Regions from separate parts of the Homo sapiens genome. Here region 1 is linked to region 2. The links come from fine-mapping of genetic effects on gene expression. Tissue or cell type: whole blood. Region 2 holds a variant in brackets; the other region holds the start of a gene. All regions are shown on one strand. Distances are from middle to middle. Region 1 holds the start of SHTN1 (shootin 1). Region 2 overlaps SHTN1 (shootin 1).

Region 1 (10,937 bases), 45 kb before region 2:
TCCGGGTTCATGCCATTCTCCTGCCTCAGCCTCCCAGTAGCTGGGACTACAGGCGCCCGCCACCACGCCCGGCTAATTTTTTGTATTTTTAGTAGAGACGGGGTTTCACAGTGTTAGCCAGGATGGTCTCAATCTCCTGACCTCGTGATCTGCCCGTCTCGGCCTCCCAAAGTGCTGGGATTACGGGCTTGAGCCACCGTGCCCAGCTTGTATATATGTTTATAGTAATTATATATTCTTACCGAATCAACCCTTTTGTGAATATAGACTTTTGTTTATTGTAACAGTTTTTGACTTAAAGTCTGTTTTGTCTGATATTAATATAACCACCCCAACTCTCTTTTGGTTACTAATTAAATTTTTTCCTACCATTTTGCTTTAAATCTATTGTTGTCTTTGGATCTAAAATAAATATTTTGTAGACATCATATAGTTAGATCATACTTTTTTTTGCATCCTGCCAGTGTTTGCCTTTTGGAGAGTTTAAGCCATCTTCATTTAAAGTTACAGTTAATAAGAAATGACTTATTTCTGCAATTTTGCTATGTATTATCTATATGTCTTATAGCTCTTTTGCTCTTCATTTGCTTCATTATTGCCTTATTTTATACTTAGTTTTTAAAAAAATGTGTATGTTTTTGGTAATCATTTTGACTTCTTTCTCCTTTCCTTTTGTGCATATTTGGTTGATATTTTCTTTTCTTTTCTTTTTTTTGAGACAGAATTTTGCTCTTGTTGCCCAGGCTGGAGTGCAATGGCACGATCTCGGCTCATTGCAACCTCCTCCTCCTGAGTTCAAGTGATTCTCCTGCCTCAGCCTCCTGAGTAGCTGGGATTACAGGCATGTGCCACCACGCCCAGCTTATTTTTTATATTTTTAATAGAGATTGGGTTTCTTCATATTGGTCAGGCTGGTCTCAAACTCCTGACCTCCGGTGATCCACCCGCCCTGGCCTCCCAGAGTACTGGGATTACAGGCGTGAGCCACAGCGCCCGGCCAATTCTATAGTTTTGAGTATATTCAGAGAATTGTACAACCATTACCACAATTAATTTTAGAAAATTTGTATTACCCCAACAATTAACCACACACCTATCAGCAGCCATTCCCTGTTTTCTCCCAGACCTCCCCTACTTTCACCCCACCTCAGTAGATACTCACCAATCAACTTTCTCCCTCTATGGATTTGCCTGTTGTGATCATTTTATACAAGTGCAATCATACAATATCTGGTCTTTTCTGATCAAGTTTTCACTGAGTATAATGTTTTCAAATTTCATCTGTGTTGTACCATATATCAGTACTTTATTTTTATTACCAAATAATATTCCAATATTGCCATTTTCATATGATAATTAACATTACATTAAATAGCTCTGTACATAAGCCTTTTAGGATAGATTCCCTGATATAGAATTAGTGGATCAAAGACAGTGAACCTTCTTCTCCTCATTGTATTTCAATCTTATTTATCTGTATACCTCAAAAGATGACATATGTGATTTTACTTTAATTACCTGAAAAATTAAATAAAGATTAAAGAGAAACTCCTTCTTGACCACTGCACTTTCACACTCCAACCCCCACACCTTGGTCCTGTTCCCCTACTTTCTATCCCTAGAGACAGCCATTATCCTGAGTTTGGCACATATTCTTCCAATTCATTTTTTAAAAGTCTGTCCTTTATCTCTATGTATATATTTGTATATATATATGTAAACACACACATTTTTAAGGGTTTTAAATGACCTGTTATTTGGAGGTCAATAGTAACTCCAACGTGATGCCTGCAACATAAATCACTATGTATATTATTATTATTGAGATGGAGTCTCGCTCTGTCACCCAGGCTGGAGTGCAGTGGCATGATCTCGGCTCACTGCAACCTTCGCCTCTCGGGTTCAAGTGATTCTCCTGCCTCAGCCTCCCGAGTAGCTGGGACTACAGGTGCCCGCCACCACACCCAGCTTTTTTTATTTTTAGTAGAGACAGGGTTTCACCGTGTTAGCCAGGATGGTCTCAATCTCCTGACCTCGTGATCTGCCCGCCTCGGCCTCCCATAGCCATCACTCTGTATATTATTAAACGGAACAAAAACTAATTTATCACTTCTATCCTTTCCATCAATATTCATATCATATAAATAAACAATAGTGTAATGGGAGAACTGAATCCCAATAAGGACTCTAATAGCCCTCCTAATAATTCATACCATGTCCTCAAGTGAATGCCATATTGTATTTCAGGAGTTTTTTTTTTTTTTTTTTTTTTTTTTGAGATGGAGTCTCACTCTGTCACCCAGGCTGCAGTGCAGTGGCAGAATCTCAGCTCAGGAGCCTTTTCTAATTTTAAGGAGGATAAATGGGATTAATTGCAAGAGGCCGCAGATTTAGTATGGAACCAAAAGTTTGATTATAGATTTGATAATTAACTCATTCTTAAACTCCAGAAATACTATCTAACTACTGTATAATTGGAGTAGACAAATCAGCCATTAAAAAAAAATGGAACTTTGTGAACTAAGCCAAATATTTAATGGGCACTCTGCTTGTATTTGGTAGAGTGAGAGAGAATGAGTCAGGATGACTCATCAGGTTTAACAGGTTTCCCAACTGCTGGACAAAAGCTAAATGTCCATTATTTTTCATTAAAATCTCCCGGATTTTTTTATTATTATCTCCTGGGGATCTTCATGGCAGCTATCTGCAACTATCTTGAATTATCTTACGCATACCTAGGGAAAGGGCTGAATAATACAATCCCATATCAAAATTATTTTTAAACTTTAAACATTTTAATACACTGTATTAAAAAATACTATGCTGCCCTTTTAGATCATTCTACCCCTAAATCACTCATGCTAAAGTACTATATTGCCATTTTAGAGAAAGAGAAAGCAGTGCTACCATTTTTTTTTTCAAAATTTTAGTTAGCATGTAGTGAGTATCAGAAAGACACTAGTTACAGGATTTACCCATATCTCAACCTCACTCTACAACTATCATGGAGAAATGAACACAAGAAATGGAGCTGGGCACTTCCATAAAACAGCAATTGAGGAATGAGCAGCACTGTGCTGTTGCTGTACCCAAACTAAGAGCTTAGAGGTAGTGAGAAAAACCAAGCTGTGCAATAAGTCTAATTCAGTTTGGACTTATCTCCCATGCTTAATGATCAGTGTAAAAGAACTGCAACCTTCAGCTTATAGTCAGCAACCACAACCCCTTTCTCACAGACCTGTAATTTTTTTTTTTTTTTTTTTTTGAGACGGAGTCTCACTCTGTCACCCAGGCTGGAGTGCAGTGGCGCGATCTCGGCTCACTGCAAGCTCCGCCTCCCGGGTTCACGCCATTCTCCTGCCTCAGCTTCCCGAGTAGGTGGGACTACAGGCGCCTGCCACCACGCCCGGCTAATTTTTTGTATTTTTAGTAGAGACGGGGTTTCACCGTGTTAGCCAGGATGGTCTCGATCTCCTGACCTCGTGATCTGCCCGCCTTGGCCTCCCAAAGTGCTGGGATTACAGGCGTGAGCCACTGTGCCCGGCCACAGACCTGTAATCTTTATTAAAAACAAAAAAACAAAAAAAAAACAAAAAAAAACTGCATTATAAATTCTGGACTTGGTGTTTTGTTAATCTTCCTCTATTAAATCCTTACAACTCTTCCTTGAGAGTAGGTATCACTATTCTTCCTATTCTTCAGATGAAGTTCAAAGATGCAGGAGACTTGACCAAAGGTTAGCTCGCAACTAGGGGTTGGGGAGAAGCACCTTTGAAACAATGCAGACCTGCCACTTCTCTCCTGGGCATGGTCTAACACAGACATGAGTTCAAATAGTTCAGAGGGCAGTGAACTGGGACAAACGCTTGGCTTAACTGCCAGCCTCTGCTGCCCGGGGGCTGCGTGACCTTCGGCATTCGGACTGCAGTGGCACCCTCTCTAAAGGGAAGGTCATCCCGCCACCAACCAGATGATCTGCAAGGGCCCTCCAGGCCCCACCATCCACGTGCAGCAGGGTCCACGTTCTGACCACCTGGCAAACCTGGTGCGATGGGGGAAAGCTAGCCAGGGCCCTCCTTCACTCACGGCATGGTCATTTAAGTAGCTGGGCGGCCTGATTCGATCCTTGTCTCCTCTTCAAGGTGCAAAATGTACCACCCTGGGCCCGCCCCTGTGGGCAGCTAGGTTTTGCAACCGCGCCCCCAGAGTCTACTGCGGGAAAACTAGGGAAGAAGCCCAGGCGTTCATGGCTCATTGCGTCCCGCTCTACCTCTGTGGTTCTTTGGGAGCGACCCCCGGGAAGCGTCCAAAGTGGAGTTCCCACACACGCTGCGAACCCACAGCCGGTTTTCTCTGAACTCGCGTCCCTGAGTCCGGGAGGTGGAGGCGGAGAAAAGGGTGCGGAGCGACCCCACGCAGGGCCGCCCCCCCTCCCACCAGCGCGTCCTGCCGCGCCGGCAGCCACAGGCTGGCATAGCGGCTGCCGACCCGCCCTCGTTCCTCCACCCCCTGAACGGGACTGCTGGGCCCGCCCCGCCCCGCCTGCAGGTGAAGCGGCCGCAGCCGCCGAGTAGGTGCGTGGGGATGATCTCACTCGCGCGCTCCGCGCCAGGAGGAGGAGGAGCGGGAGCGGATCCAACTTCCGGGTAGTGGAGCCGCAAGCCACCGGCATCTTGCTTTTTCTTCCCCCTCCTCCTGTGTGCCCCGCGCCGCTCCCTCTTTCCCTTTTATTCCCGGCCCCACCCGCCAAAATGAACAGCTCGGACGAAGAGAAGCAGCTGCAGCTCATTACCAGTCTGAAGGAGCAAGGTAGGCAGCACGCGGGCGCCAGGTGTGGGCAGCCGCGGCCCGTGGGCGGGGACGGCCCCAGGGCGCTGGGGCCAGGGCAGTTGGAAGCCGGGCGGGAGACGTGGCGGCCGCCGTGGTCACCGCAGTAGCTCCGTCACCCGCAGAGAAGCGTCCTCCGTGGCCGGCGCGCCTGGGAAAGCTCTGGACCGAGGATAACGCGGAGTGTCGGGGCTAGTCAGGCCCCGCAGCTCGAGACCCGCTGCCCGCTGGTTGCGTTTGCTGGCGATCGGGGGCTGGGGGAAGGGACGAGGATTCAGTGCGGACGAGGTTGCACAGTGCCACCTTCCTTGCCGGAGAAGCGGGTGGGGCAGGATATTTTGGCTGCTTTGGGCGGCTCAGCTAGCTTGGCCCCACCCTTACACATTTGTTGGCGCTGGGTGGCCTGTAGGGCTGTTTCACACCCTTCCCAGCTTTTCGTTTGGATTCGGTCTAGTTCCTCTTTCCTTGCCCAGCTGGGATTTTCAGGCCATAATTTTTTTTTTAATCACTTCTCAATTTTAGCAGTTTATTAGTCAGCAAGGTCAACATCCTGCCAGTGTTGAGCTTTCAGAATTAACAGGGTTGACGCTGGGCGAAGGAGAGCCAGGCCATGCGCACGCATTTCTGTACTGCTTGGTAACTGGGGATTATCCTTTAATAAAGACCTGCTTCAGTCAATCATTTTTTTCATCAGTTACCACACTTCTGAACCAAACCAGATCAACAACCAAATGCTAACCTATCACATTTAAACACTTATCATTATTACCCTGACCAAAGGGTGGTCTGCGAATGTGGGTCAAGACAGGGAGGAACCAGCCGGGTGCGGTGGCTCACGCCTGTAATCTCAGCAATTTGGGAGGCCGAGGCAGGTGGATCACCTAAGGTCAGGAGTTCGAGACCAGCCTAACCAACATGGAGAACCCCTATCTCTACTAAAAATACAAAATTAGCCGGGCGTGGTGGTGCATGCCTGTAATCCCAGCTACCCGGGAGGCTGAGGCAGGAGAATCGCCAGGAGGCGGAGGTTGCGGTGAGCCAAGATGGCGCCGTTGCACTCCAGCCTGGGCAACAAGAACGAAACTCCATCTCCAAAAAAAAATAATAATAATAAATAATAAAGAAATAAAGGGAGGAACCATACAGATTTAAAGGAAGTAAAAATGTGTAGGAACATGTACTTTTCTGAATGTCTTGCTGACAAGACCATGTAATGGAAGGATCCCTGCTCTGTGGCAAAACCTGGTATTTAGTTGCAGCTCTTTCACTTCTCTTGGCCCAGCTCACCTGCTCTGTGAACTTGGAGGAGTCTCTTTCCTTCCGTGGATCTTCTGGTCAATCAAGGCCGACCTGACTAAAGGCGAGGGTGAAACTGGAGGACTTTCTGAGGTCCTGTCCAGTACTCTTACCTGTTGTTGCGTAAAACCACAGACACCGTTGGGAAGTGCTCCCGGATTCCTCTGAAGCCACACTCTGGCAAACAAATTTCAACATTACTGTTTACTGTGTGACCCTGGGGAAATTATTTAACCTCTGAAATGGACATAACACATTCTTCTGTGATATCCAGCATCTAGAAAGTGCTGGATAAATGTTAGTCTCTTTGGCCTTCCCAGCACCTTTACCTGGCATCCTAGATTAGCCTGAGGTCATAAAGTCACAAGCATCAGTGAATTTAGTGGGTGGACAGAATGCCTTTATCTGAAGTTTCTCAAGTGTTTTAGCGAGGGACTGGATTCTACTGACTGGTATTTTATATTTAATACACCTTCGCCCAACCCAAAACATTAAAACTTGATTCATATTCTAGATTTGTGGAGCTTTCATTATAGGTAATATCTGTCAGTGGATATCAGATCTTCTTATGGTTGGTCAGTTTTCGAATAATGATAAACATAAAAAAATTTTCCCTTTCATTTCTTGTATAATCAAGGGTCGATTAACAATGTAGATAATCTGCAAATTGCTTATATTTGATTTCGGAACACATTCTCCATTCCTATGTTGGGTTTGAGGCCTGACAAAAAGGATTTCTATATTTGTGGCTCTTTCTCCTATTGCATTGTATTGGAAAATAAACAAATCCTTGGCATTGGTATTTTTAGAGGATATATTTCCTTGATTAAGTGCATATGAAAGGTAATAGAACAGTTAGATATTCAAAGTTGTGTTTCTTAAAAGGTACACTTTTGGGGATAGTGAGTCTAGTTACAAAGGTGTTGGGATTTTTTCAGCCCACAGTGTGATTTTTATACATTTCAAAACCAGGTAGTTTGCTTGTCATTGGATCACAGACTGTGGAAACAATTTACTTCAAAAGTGTTCAGTTACTGTTTGACCTGTAGAACTAATTGGGAAGCTAGGGATTTGGAAGAACAGGTAACTGGGTCTTTGAGCATTTAACAGTACATACTATGATCAATTTTGTAAGCTGATGGTTGCATGGTTTATTTTTGAAAATAGTAATTTTTACTACCTGTTACTACCTTTTTACTCACAATGTTAATATTCTGAGTGATAATTCCACTACCCCTATTTAGTGTGAGCAAGAAGAACCACTATTTATCAAATATGTTATTTTCCCTTAATAATGCTGAGTAAACATATTTATTCATTCCTTCAACAAATACTTATCAAGTACCACCATATGTCAGGTCCATGTGGTAGGCACTAGGGGTGTAAATAGTGAACTACACAGTCCTTGTCACCAAATTAATTTTCTAGAAGAGAAGACAGGTACTATTCAAGTTATCATATGAATAAATGTACAATTACTTTTTTATTCTAGGATAGATTCTTAGAAGAAATGGAATTGTTGGATTAGAGGGCACGGACATTTACTTTTGCTAGACATTGCAAAAGTGCCCTCCAAAATGATTATACCAGTTCAGATATCCTTCAGCAGTACCCATTTCCCCACACATTGGTCAACTCTGGCTAATAGCAATCTTTATTCATTTGATGGCCTGACAAGTTTTTGAATTTTTGCCAATCTAATGGGCAGAATGTTACCTTTTAAGATTTGCATTGCTCTGGTTATTAGTGATGTTTGAAATCTTTTTACATGGCCATTGGCCATTTAGGTTTCATCATATGGGTCCTTCCTTAGTGATTTTTTTTTAAACTGATACATGAGACTTGTACATATTTATAGAAGACATGGGGTATTTTGTTACATGCTTAGAATGCATAATGATCAAGTCAGGGTATTTGGGATATCCATTACCTCCAGTATTTATCATTTCAATGAGTTGAGAACATTTCAAGTCCTCTCTTCTATCTCTTTTGAAATATATAATACATTGTTGTTAACTGTAGTCACCCTACTTTGCTATCAAAATGTTAAAACTTACTCCTTGTATCTAACTATGTTTGAACCCATTAAACAATCTCTCTTCATTTTGCCCTGCCTTAGTAAGTTTTAAGTCTAAAACTTGAACCAGTTCCCCAGGAGAGTGTTCAGAAAGGAGATTCCTGTCTACTCTAAACCACAAAGCTGACAGCAGCCTTCCCTAACGTGAAGCCTTTAGTGGTGTGGTGAATAAGGTTGCTTTTGACAAAAGTTGTGAAATGTAATGACGGAGTCTGTCATAATATGAACAATCTCTAATTTATACTTACCATTCCCTAAGCTCTATGTCTTATAAATCACACCCACTTCTGAATTACTTCAAAACATTTTATGTTCCCTCCTAGTGAATGGTATAATTAGCTATATTATGTCTTTCCAGAAAGTTATATTATGTCCCTTTAAAAAAAATTAGCCAGTGTGTGATTGCTTATGTTCAAGCAGATGTTGAGGTAATGAGGTAATTCTCCTTTTGTCTTTTTTGGGGCTTTATTTTATTGGACTGATTGACATCTTTAATGCACCGAGAAATGGCAACTTTGGATACTATTTCCGAGGCATATTTCCTAGCTACTAAAGTGGATATTTCCCTTACAAAACATCATACAATTTGCTCCCCCTCCGGAATTCAGTGGGAAAATGATAGACTTAGTTCAGCATTTGTTTAAGGTGCATGATTTTCTGTATAATTCATTCAGCCCACATGCATTGAATATTCATAGCCAGGCACTGTGCTAGGCATCAGAGAGATAGAGCTGAATAAGACCTTGCCTCTGCTGGTGAGGAGTTCCTGGTCTAGAGATAGTGCTAGGCATGTAAATTCCAGGAGGAGTGTCTGATTGGCCTAGTTTGGCCAATCTCATGTATTCAAATACTTTGGCCACGGGAGGGCAGGATACTTTAATTGGCAGCCCCTGCAAAGATTGGAGGAATAGTCCAAAACAGAATGGGGTGCACTACCATGAGGATGCTGACCGGGCAGACACAGACAACACATGTCTGCTAAACTGTTCAGTGTAGTAATGCCATGTCATTTCCAAGTTGATGAAATTTTGAAGAGAGATGGCTATTTAATAATAAGGACATACATAAGAGGAAAACAACCACCACCACCCCAATAATGGGCAATTTTTGGGCTAACAGTATTTAAAATGGATTTCCTATGGTGAGGTAATTGGTTTTAAAGCAATTTTAAACCTCTTTTCACCTTTAGAGTTAGTATCGTTTTCCCCAAGATTATTGAGATGATACTTAAGTTCACATGGAAATCTAGTCAAGCTTATTCTTAGAGCAAGTTAGTAATTAAAAGATGCATCCAGTATTCCATTGGCTTCTAGGCCAGGAAATAACTGGAGCATTATTTTGACAAAACAGTCTGAAACTATTGCCTACCACAATGACCACGTCAGTCTGGGAAAACGGAAGCATTGACAATCTTGGGTGCATATGAGATCAGCCAGTAGAAAGCTGTTTGGAATTAAATGTTGCCTTGTTTTCAAGTGCAAACTTGGTTTTACATCAGTATTTTTCAAAGTGTGGTACAAGGGCCAGCTGCATCTGAATCACCAGGTACTTATCAACAATGCATTTTCCTCTGAAAGTTAGGGAGTGGTTGCTGAAGAACAACAGTTTGGCAACCCCCCATGAGATGAACATGCAGTGTGGGCTAAGGAACTATGTCTTCTAGTCAGAATTTCACTATTTCCTTAATATTATTTATTTATTTATGTATTTATTTATTTGAGACAGAGTCTCACTCTGTCACCCAGGCTGGAGTGCAATGGCGTGGTCTCGGCTCACTGCAACCTCCGCCTCCCAGGTTCAAGCAATTCTTCCGCCTCAGCCTCCCAAGTAGCTGGGACTACAGGCATGTGCCACCACACCCGGCTAATTTTTGTATTTTTAGTAGAGATGGGGTTTCACTATGTTGGTCAGGCTGGTCTCGAACTCCTGACCTTGTGATCCACCCGCCTAGGCCTCCCAAAGTGCTGGGATTACAGGCGTGAGCCACCGCACCCAGCTGTGAACCTTTTTTAAAATAAATGCAAAAATAAACACATGCTCATAGAAAACAAGTGTGTAAAGTGAAAAGTACAATTAACTATTCTATCTGACCCATTGTTTCTCAATCTTTATTTCATTATCACTCTCCTAAGGAAACTTTTTAGGCGTTTTATGCACTGTGACTCTTTGAAGGGCCATAAGCCATTGTAATATCCAAGATCTTTTCTCTTATCTCCTTGAGGATGAAATCACTACATTGACAATGCATGCTATGACCCCATTCCCATTTCCCAAAGTTAACTACTGTTAACCTTTTGTTTTCTTTCCTTCCAGAAATTGTGTTTGTATGTGCATATGTATTTATCATGTAATATGTAATTTTTTATATTAGTACATGTAGCGTTGTCATTAAAAATTGATTAATGTTCCAATGTACAGACGTACCACAATGTATTTAATGTCCTCTGGATGGACATTTCTATCTTTCTTTCCTTGTTTTTGCTATTACAAATAATGCTTCTGGGCTGGTTGTGTTGGCTCACGCGTATAATCCCAGCACTTTGGGAGGCCAAGGTAGGAGGATACCTTGAGCCCAGGAGTTTGATACCAGCCTGGGCAATGTAGTGAGACCCCATCTCTCTAAAAAGAAAATGCTTTTGGCACTGGATTCATGTTGGAGACATCAGTGTGAACTCATGTTTAGCTTAATACAGGTATGGATGGTTACACATATATATATATGTTGGTATATACATAT
Region 2 (10,937 bases):
TATTTATTTATTTATTTATTTTTGAGATGGAGTTTTGCTCTTTTTGCCCAGGCTGGAGTACAGTGGCGTGTTCTTGGCCCACTGCAACCTCCGCCTCCTGGGTTCAAGTGATTCTCCTGCCTCAGCCTCCCAAGTAGCTGGGATTACAGGCAGCTAACTTTGTATTTTTAGTATAGACAGGGTTTCACCATGTTGGCCGGGCTGGTCTCGAACTCCTGACCTCAGGTGATCTGCCTGCCTTGGCCTCCCAAAGTGCTGGGATTACAGGCATGAGCCACCGCGCCCAGCCCCTTTCATGTCTTTTCAGCCACAATATTAGATCCATTAATCTGTTTTAAGGACACACCGATTTTCCTACATATATGCCAACTTTCATGGCTCTTTCCTTACCACATGGAAAACTTTTGAAGTAGTGTGATGTTGAAGAAGAATTTGTGATATGTTCACCACATATGCTTTAGAGATATTCTACATCTAAATATCGCTGGGAGTTAGAGTTGGGAGAGATTTGCTCTAGAAGCAACATCATTGGTGGTGACACCTTGTATAATGAATTAGAAAGGACTATAGAAAAGTAGAGTCACCTAGAAATGGTTTTAACTGGGTTTTACCAGTTAGAACTCTGTGATTTGGAATATGTTATTTAACTTCTCTGGGCCTCCGTGTTCTCAAATATAAAATTGCTGTGATGATCCCTACGTTATAGGATTGTTGTGAGGCTTTGTGAAGGAGGGAACACATGTAAAGAGTTTAGCACAAGGCTGGACACATAGTCAGGCTCAACAAATGGCGATGGTAGTTGTTTCCTAAGCAATTCTATACTACAGAGAACATTCTCATAAAAGGCTGTTCACAGGCGAGCTTAGGCCTTCAGTCCTTCAAATAGACACTAACACGAGCACCTGCTTTGCATGTAGCATTGTGCTAGGTGCAAGAGAATCAGACATGTAAAACAAAATCCCTGCTCTAATGTTCATAGTGAGTAGAAGATAAAAACAAGTAAAAAAAAAAAAAAACAGTTACCCTACAATGTGATGTGTACTACACTGCCATTTATGTAAGACTGCTTTGAAGTCATAGTTGAAGAGAGACAAACTTCGCTAATTCAAGTAGACTAATAGAAACAATACTTGATGTACTTTTATGTTATACTTCTATGTTCTCAGGGTCATTAAAATTTTTTTACTATGAAAAATTTCAAAGTGATGCAAAGGCGGGAAAATAATTTAACGAATCCCCATGTTCCAGTTTTCTGGCTGCAACAGTTGCCAACTCACAGCCAGTCTTCCAACTGTACACCCATACACCCACTGTCACTGACCTCAGATTGCTTTGGAACTAATTCCAGTCATCATATCATTTTACTGTTTACTGCCTGGAAATATTTCAGTATATATTTCTAAAAGATTAGTAGTCTTTTCTTTTTAACATAACTGCAGTATTACGGACACTTTATTAAAAGTTCATCTTTTTTCTTTTTTAAACCTCATGTCATCCAAATATGCAAATATGACAAGTACAGTGGCCATGGATTGTGGATATCCTGAGACAAGCCCAATTCAGAACCATAGGGCAAATTATTACATGAATAGCTAAACGTTTAAAAAACTTTTATTATGGCCGGGCGCGGTGGCTCACGCTTGTAATCCCAGCACTTTGGGAGGCCGAGGCGGGCGGATCACGAGGTCAGGAGATCGAGACCATCCTGGCTAACACGGTGAAACCCCGTCTCTACTAAAAATACAAAAAAATTAGCCGGGCGTGATGGCGGGCGCCTGTAGTCCCAGCTACTCGGGAGGCTGAGGCAGGAGAATGGCGTGAACCCGGGAGGCGGAGCTTGCAGTGAGCCGAGATTGCGCCACTGCACTCCAGCCTGGGCCACAGAGCGAGACTCCGTCTCAAAAAAAAAAAAAAAAAAAAAAAAAAAAAAAAAAAAAAAAAAAAAAAAAAAAAACTTTTATTATTCAAAATGTGCAAATAAATTTACATATTAAAAGTATTTCTGTTTTGCGTCATGTGACTTGACTTTTGGTTTTGGAAATGGGGTCATGCTTTTTAAAGATATAATCACCCTTTGAAATATACTCTTCCCATATGAACCTAGAACATTGGTAAGTAGGTTGTTATGCTACCAGTTTAGCACTGGAATAATTTCTTAAACTAAAAATTAATGCGCAATTTAAAAAAATGTCTACTGTTCTCTCTTTGAGAAGAAATAAAAACCCCACCAGATGGAGTGTACCAAATCAGAACTGGAGAAAATGTGAGCAAGGACTACCCAGCTATGTTTATCAAGTTGAATCACAGGGCACCTTTTTACAAAATGTTCAGAAAATAAATGTTTTTTTTGTTTTGTTTTGTTTCCTATTTGCTAGGCCTAAACCTCACTACTGTGGAATGAATTTTCTTACTCTTTCAAGAGCAAGAATGTTATTGAATAAAAAGTAAGATTCCTATGAAAAATGCAGAGTGTTTATGTTTTTGTTATGATAGTGGAAATACCAGATTGTGGCAGAAGATGTCAAGTAGTTAAGGCTAAAAATTCAAAGTAATATTTGATGTTGTAAAAATTGTATAGGTTTCTTTTCTCTTTCCTTCACATTTTTGAAGAACCTACCTTGTAAACATAGTGATAAAATGCCAGGAATATTAGGATTTTAAGGAAATAATAGAGCCTATTATTTAAACTACAATATAAAAGGCAATTATATTGATGAAGAGCTACATGGGCTTTGTGTGTGTGAATAAACTTGGCCTGTGTTCAGCTTCTATTTGTTCTTCTGGCATAAACACATATTGTGTGTGATTCCAGTTTAATGGGGACCCGTTTGTATGCCAAGCAGCTGCATTTTAGGACCTATTGCGTGATTTCATAGCTCTCTGAAAATTGGTTCTATTCAGAACAAGAGATAGAAGAGAAGAAGGGGGGTGATGTGGAAGGGGGGGGGAGCTTCAACACACAATCATTTCTTTTCAATTGGAGCCAGAAAGGTTGATGACAACATGACCATTGTGTTATAATGATAAGACCACTAAGGCATCTGTACCTCTCATCAAGGCTTTCACACAACAGCAGATACAATTTAATTCACTGCTCTGTCAGCAGTGCTGATACCATTATGCCGTCTGTCTCCACAGTTATAATCACTGTCCTCTGAGAAATGCAGTTGAAATGATCTTGAGCAGTCAAAGAAACTCTCAATTAAGGCTGCCACTTCCAATGTGTCAGATTGTGTCTTATGCACTTGGTACAATTTTCACTTCCAATCCTGTTTATTTACAATGTCTACCAGTAATTACGCTTAACGTGTCATTTAGTGAGGGGGGCCCCTGCCAAGCCGATTGTTGGGTGCTGCTGTACCATTGAGTGGGAGTTTCTCGAAGTCAATGCCATCAGCAGCTTTTAGGCCCTGATGGGATGCAGTAGTAATGTTGATAATGCAAGTATCGTGCTCATCAAGTCATAATTAGATGCCACTCAAATGTGCCACTTGTAATAACAGTGTTGATTCATGTTTTTCTCGGTGACTGCAACTACTAATTAGTTAAGTGGTTTTTGGTTGGCCTGCATTTGCTGCAGATTATTATTACCCCTGAAAAAATGTCAAGGTTAGAGATGTTTCTGGCCATTTAGTGCTGCTTTATGAATTTGAATATTAACATAATAAGAACTTTGGACAGACTTAGGAAGTAATACATTTTTGTATTTAATTTGGAGAGAAATTTTTTCCCCTGAGTTTAATCATAATTGCAGGTTAATTAAGCTTAAATGAAGCAAAAGTAATCTCTCTTTGTGTTATGTGAGCCCAGTGCTTTTTGCCTAACTTTGTTGGGTTTCACATTTGGGTGTCCTTTAATTTTTTTTTTTTTAAGCCAAACAAATAGCAATAAGTAATGTCTACATTTAGGGTTGAGATTCTGAGAGTTTTCATTTAACTAGAAATATGGGTGGAAGGAATTGGCATTTTTCTTTCTTGATCTTCAAAATATAACTCAAGTTCTAAATCACTTTATACCTGTAAATCTCAATTTACATGCACCAGCTGTCAAAAAATCTAAAAAATACAATTTTTCGAGCATTGGTGACATATCAAGTAAAATTTTATTTTTCTTCTAATGCTTCTGATAGCCTATGATTCAGGAAGTAATTTATTAGCATCTGCTTTATAACCATATAGTACATAAATCTTACTGCTATACTTTTCTGCCTGAGAGTTACTTATGAAATAGCAGTAACTACTTTGTAGCTAATAGAGACAAATGTTGCAGTACTTAGCCAAGTCGCCACATCACTACTCCAGTCATAAGATCAATTTAAGATTTATTTTTCTTTTATTTTTTGTTAATTTTTCTTATTAGAGCCATGTGTTATACACTGCTGAGAAAAAGAAGTCATGCTGTCACTCCTCTTTATTTATGAAATATTCTTTTGTTTAAACTAGCACATATGTCTATGGATACATATATAGTTGCATAGAAAATAGACTTGTAAAAAAATCTAAATAGCGCTCTTAAAATGTACATAATAAAATGTATGTATGTGAAATGAATGTATTTTGTTGTGTTCTTGTTTCTTTCTACATTCAAATATTAGCTCAGATTTAATCAGGGCAGCTTCTCAAAAACCTTTTTTCAGTGATAGCTAAAGGTCTGGCTAGCCAAAGAATTGAAGTATTCTTAATCATGGGACGATGCGTGGGCTCCTGGAATAGCTGACTAATCTTTGAATGCTGAGATTTTTTTTCCCCCTCATTCCTAGTTTCTCACATGGTCATAGAGGAAGTTAATTTCATGCAGAACCATCTTGAAATAGAGAAGACTTGTCGAGAAAGTGCTGAAGCTTTGGCAACAAAGGTGAGACTTCAAATGAAGGAATTTTACCTGAGCTTTTAAATTTCAACTTGCTTTTCTAAGCAGTGGCTTCTATCTGGTTTTGCTTTTCTACTTCTCTAATCGATTATCTACTCTGATGATGAGGGAAATGTTAAAAGGCCTCAGAATCCTGGAATATGATTATGTAAATATTCACCTTAATGCAAAGGTTATTCCAAATTGTAAAAGGAGCATTTGTATGTGAGTATTTCAGCATTTGTGCTTTTTGCCTGTGAAAATGTGGAAAAAATGGTCCCAGAGTAGTGTTAAAGGGGACTTTGCAAATGTCCATGCATTTGGTTAAAATGCTAACCAAGTTTAAAACTAACCTGGTGTGACATAAAAGAGCAGTGAATGTCTCATATTTGAATCAGATGAAAAAGTCACCCTGAAGCCGTGCATTTCAGGTGATTATTTATGAAAGCAAAGCGAGGGCATGCTGAAGGTGACCTCCAGTGTTCCACTGATTGCCTCTTGCTGATGAATTTACCAAGTGTGTAATTTTCTACATTCTATCTCATCAGAAGTACATTATTATTAAAGAATGTTTTTTTTATCTCTGTCTTATGTATTTTGGGTTGGGTAAAATGCATCTGAACCACTTCATCAGAAAGTGGATTACAGCAATTTTCAACCAAATTTCATTAGTAATACTGGTTGTGTTTCTTTTCCCTCCCCTCCATCACCCACCTCCGAAAATTTCTTTGGATGTGACTGAAATCCTACTCTCAATAAATACATAAATAAATGTAATTTGTATGCATTAACAGTGTGCTTCCTAGAGGTATTTGCTTAATTGTTTGCATAACAACACTACATTAGAATTCATAAGATATTTAATCAGGACCTAACTAAGAATATAAATTTGGGTATGTAACTTCTCTCCTGTTATTCATCTGAAGAATACACAGCAATACACTTTAAAAACACTTTTTAAAAAATGATAACATGGGTATTCTCACATCATTTTTACTCTGCGGCACATTCCTAGAGTTCACTAGTCCGTAATGTTGTGTGAATTCTATTTTCATTTTTGAATTTCTTTCTTTGGAATAAGTAGAGAAAAAGTACATTTGGAGCCTGCTAGCTGCTCTGAATCTTCTAGTGTCTAAGGATATACTCTCTATTTTTTCTTGTTATTAACAAGTATTCCTGTTGTCATAGCACATCCAGAGTGAGGATACTGGCTACCTTTCAGGATTGGCAGAGTTTATGGAAGGCACTGGTTTGTGGGACAGTATATACAGGTTTTGTTCCTGGTTATGTAATTTTGGGCATATGTGATTTTGGACAAGTTAATTTTGTTCTCTGGAGTGTAGTATCTCATCTTAAATGACATGATGGACTAGAGTTAGGACTGGAGTTAATAATTTATTTGCATATGGCCCCTTTTAAAAAATTACTTTATTCTGTCTCCC[C/G]TTTTATTTAATAGGTGTTTTTGGGCAAGAGAACTCACCTCTCTGAGCTACAGTTGTCTTGCTCTAAATGCCAGGATGGACCATGGTTGGCTTCATCATAATACCCCAGATCCATTGGCTCTAGATGTGTGGCCCAGGCATGTGCATGTAGAAAAGCTGCCTGGTGACTGTTATATTCATTGCTCGTTACGAACCAGTGTTACCTAATCTCTAAGCTCATTTTTACAATTAAGTCTTAATAATAGGATCCTTACCTAACACTGTTTGTTGCCTGTTCTTTAAAAACCCTTTTTTAAAATGAACATATAGTTTATTTTTGAAGATATAGTATGAACTCATGGGGCCTAGAAAAAAATTTAAAAAATGGATTAAATCAAATACTATAAATGTGCTTGTTTGTTGTGAAAGACTGCTTTGAATGCAAAATGTGGAAACTTCATTATATGTGTGACTTCATTCTGATTTAAGTATCAATTGTCATTTTTGAAAGGAGGCTTTCAAAAATGCTCATTTTTTTTCCTGAGAGCAAAGTTTCTATAAATTCTTATTTTTCTAAATTTTTGCCATCAAATTAATGACAAATGGAATGTTTAATTCTGATGATGCAGCTTGACCTCGTAATTTTCTTTTTTTTCTTTTTGAAATGGAGTCCTGCTCTGTTGTCCAGGCTGGAGTGCCGTGATGCCATCTTGGCTCACTGCAACCTCCACCTCCCAGATTCAAGCAATTCTCCTGCCTCAGTCTCCCGAGTAGCTGGGATTACAGGCATGTGCCACCACACCCAGTTAATTTCTGTGTTTTTAGTAGAGACAGTGTTTCACTGTGTTGACCAGGCTGGTCTCAAACTCCTGACCTCAGGTGACCTGCCCGCCTTAGCCTCCCAAAGTGCTGGGATTACAGGCGTGAGCCACTGCGCCCAGTTCCTCATATTTTCTTAGAAGCAAGTATGGATACTTTGCTTTGCTAAAATGTGTAGATTAAACTGATAAATGTGGACCAGTTATTTAAGTCATATGATCCAAAGCCATTAAACTTGCTTGTTTTGTACCTTTAAATAGCCACTAAACTGGACAATATAAAAACCCTATTTACATTTGAATATAATAGTAGGTTCTGTTACTGTAGGGTTATAAAAGATATATTTTTGGCTGGGCACGGTGGCTCACGCCTGTAATCCCAGCACTTTGGGAGGCTGAGGTGGGCAGATCACCTGAGGTCAGGAGATTGAGACCATCCTGGCAAACATGGTGAAACCCCGTCTCTACTAAAAATGCAAAGCTTAGCTGGGCGTGGTGGTGTGTGCCTGTAATCGCAGTTACTCGGGAGGCTGAGGCAGGAGAATCGCTTGAACCAGGGAGTCAGAGGTTGCAGTGAGCTGAAATCACGCAGCTCTACTCCAACCTGGTGACAGAGAGACTCCATCTCAAAAAAAAAAAAAAAAAAGTAAAAAGATATATTTTTGCCTTAGACATAGAGGGGTTCCAAACAACAAGTAGCATGCAATTAACCTATAGCTTGATGAATAGCTACAATGAAATTACTTAGCCAAAATTTGTGAATTCAGAATTCTCAAAAATGTTCAAATAGTATGCACATAAGACCTCATGTCTAGGCCGGGTGTGGTGGCTCACTCCTGTAATCCCAGTGCTTTGGAAGGACAAGGTGGGAGGGTCACTTGAGCTCAGGAGTTTGAGACTTTGAGGCTGTGGTGAGCTATGATCATACCACTGCACTCTAACCTGGGTGACAGAGCAAGAACCCATCTCCAAAAAAACAAAACAAAAAAAACCCTCATATATATAAATCTTACATTTCTTCTTTCAAAATGCGAAAATGGGGTTTCAGAGAAGGATTATGAAATTTTCTGATTGGCTTTTTTTTCTTGAGCTGGTGACTTTGTTAAGTAGAGTAATTGTATTGCAGACAAACTGGTGGATTTTGGTGCCTGGTTTGATAGGGGCATTAAACCCTTTTGAGGGCAGAACTGTTAGCTATGATGTTGCTAAGGTATTATTGTAGTGGTTGTCTAAGAAGTAATATATTAAGCACTAGATGACAGAAACTAGTAGTTTCTTGAGTATCCTGGAGGAAGGAGAAAATGCCTAAATGAATACTTTGAAGAAAACTAGCTGATAAATGATTTCCAAAGGATAATTAGACACAAACTAAACCTCTTCTTACTATGAATAACTAACACTGAAGTTTTACTGTGTGGCAGTTACTATATTAAATACTTTATATATAATGTCTCATTTAGTCATCATATTGTGGGATACAGACTATCTTAATTCTTAGTTTACTGATGAGAAAACTGAAACATAAGGATTAGGTTAGTTGTAGAGGCAGAGATGGAATTTTATTGCAGAGCTGGGTTGTATACTAAAGCAATGCGTTTCTTTACATCAATGATTCTTAGTGTTGATGTACATTAGAATCACCTGGGAAACTGAAAAAGGGCTATGCTGGGCTTCACTGCCAGAGATTTGGGTATGGCATAGCGCCTAAGCATTGAGGTTTTTAAAAAGCTCTCCAGAGATTCTGATGGCCAGAGTTGAGAACCATTAGTTTAAATATTAGGATACAGAACCAGAAATTAAGTCTTAAATGTCTTCACTTTTTCCTTAAATTGATGTTTTCTTCTGACATTCCTAAAAGATGGGATAGTTTGAGAATTGACAAGTGAGGGTCCTTGAGCTTCGTGTGCCATGCTGTAGCATTCATGGTTTAAAGAACCCACAACAGTTTTTATCTGAATTTTCCAACTTAAGGAAGAGGTGTTGGGAAATGATGGGCCTCATCTTTTATCTTGATCTCCTAATGTAATGTGTGCAGACAGAAGCTAGAGTTGGAGACTGGGACTGAGGATAAAGGGTTGTGTCTGATTTCCTGAATAGAGCTTGCCAGTCTTCCAGGAAGAATCCATGGAAGAGTTCATAACCATTTCTTAGAGATTCTTCCTGATTCTCCAAAGAGGTCAGACAAACCTCTCGTGCTCCAGACCATGCCACTTTAGGTTCCATATTATTGGGGTAGAAATCAGATCTCCCAGATTAAAGTGGGCTGGGCTTTCTCTATGAGAAACCCTGAGGAACCCTAATTATGATCACAAATGAAAGAGCAAAGTCAGACCAGTGCTATGCTAAATATCTTATTCTAGTGTCAGGTTTACAGTGAGGAAAGGTAGTTATCTTTCCAATGAACTATGTTCATTTGTTTCCAATATCAATTATTAAATTCAGAGCATGTCTTCCTGGTCAAGGGCTCTAGTAAAGGAAATGTATTTGCATTTCTATAACTTACATTTTATAGTAGGGAAAATAATCTACTGATTACTTTGATGTGCGCAAATTAAGGAAAACTGTTTATTTTTTAGTCTTGGGAAGAGAAAATATGAGCAAAACCATATTGTACTTCTGTGGACATTGGAACATCCTTAGTCTTTGTGTGTGCTTTGTCCTAAATTTTCTTGTACATAAACACATTAGCTAAAGAAGGTGATAATAGTTGAATAACTGAAGTTAAAAAACCAACTCATTTCCCTGTCCGGGAATAAAAAATACATTAACAAAGTAGGATTCCTTTTTTTTTTTTTTTTTTTTGCTGTGAAGTAGAACTCTTTTAATAGAGATAGTAGAAACAACATCTTGAACTAGTTTAAACAAGAAAAGAAAATGATGTGGGATCTGTTAGAAATATCAGAGACTTCCATAGAATCTCTGAGACAGGAGCAGTTTAGGAATGGACTGGAGTCTGGGGCTTGAGTCTGGTGGGAAACCCTTTCTCTGTTGCTTTTCTCTTCCTTTCTCTACACATCAGCTTCAGTTTTAGCTTTTCTAAAAACTACCTTCCTCTTTTCCTTGATCCTATAGTGGAATGTGGTTACCAGCAGCTCCTGTCCAGGCACATGGAAAGAAACTCATTGCTCTGTTCCAGCCTCCAAATTTCTAGCGAGGGGATCTGACTGGTCACACTTGGGTCATGTGTTTAATCCCTGGACTAATTCGCTGTGGCCAAAGGGATGGGGTGTGCTTGGGAGAGCATGGCACTCCCATTGAAATCATGTGGAACAATGGAAAGTGGTAATGTCCAGAAAAGAGAGATGTTAGGCAAACAGACATTTAAAAGGTGTTCTCAGCACCACAGCACGCAGAAGATTTGCTTGAAATAAAGTGCCTTTTTTAAGACTATTAATGACTATAAATCAGAATTTTATTTAATCTGTACTGGTGTTTTATCTTAGTTCCTTATATTTCTCATCAGTTACAACTAGCATTTCCACTTGCTGCTGGCTGTAATCCAGACATCAGATCTTGGTTAAAGAAATAAATTTAATATAAAACCTTATTTAATGAATCCACTAATTGTTATGTCCTGCTGTGAGTGTTGATGAATATGTAAGACAAAAATATACTTAATTTGTCTATTGTTTAAAAATCCAAGATACTCATTTGGCTGCTTTTAAAATAACTGTTTTTATATTTTGTCTTAGCTAAATAAAGAAAATAAAACGTTGAAAAGAATCAGCATGTTGTACATGGCCAAGCTGGGACCAGATGTAATAACTGAAGAGATAAACATTGATGATGAAGATTCGACTACAGACACAGACGGTGCCGCCGAGACTTGTGTCTCAGTACAGTGTCAGAA

Evidence for each region.
Region 1: it holds the start of SHTN1, and the variant in region 2 is fine-mapped to the expression of SHTN1 in whole blood (INTERVAL, PIP above 0.99).

Annotation. Positions count from the first base shown.
Region 1 is chr10:116,998,894-117,009,830 of GRCh38, reverse strand. SHTN1 (shootin 1) reads left to right here and starts at 4,644. Exons shown (of 17, transcript NM_001127211.3): 1 at 4,644-4,809. The coding sequence starts at 4,752. RefSeq lists silencers at 4,468-4,547, 4,778-4,887, 4,759-5,053 and an enhancer at 4,868-5,561.
Region 2 is chr10:116,954,053-116,964,989 of GRCh38, reverse strand. SHTN1 (shootin 1) reads left to right here. Exons shown (of 17, transcript NM_001127211.3): 4 at 4,760-4,854; 5 at 10,780-10,937. Among named protein-coding and RNA genes, the nearest start is that of SHTN1, 46 kb to the left of the region's middle. The variant C/G (reference allele first, on the strand shown) is at 6,291.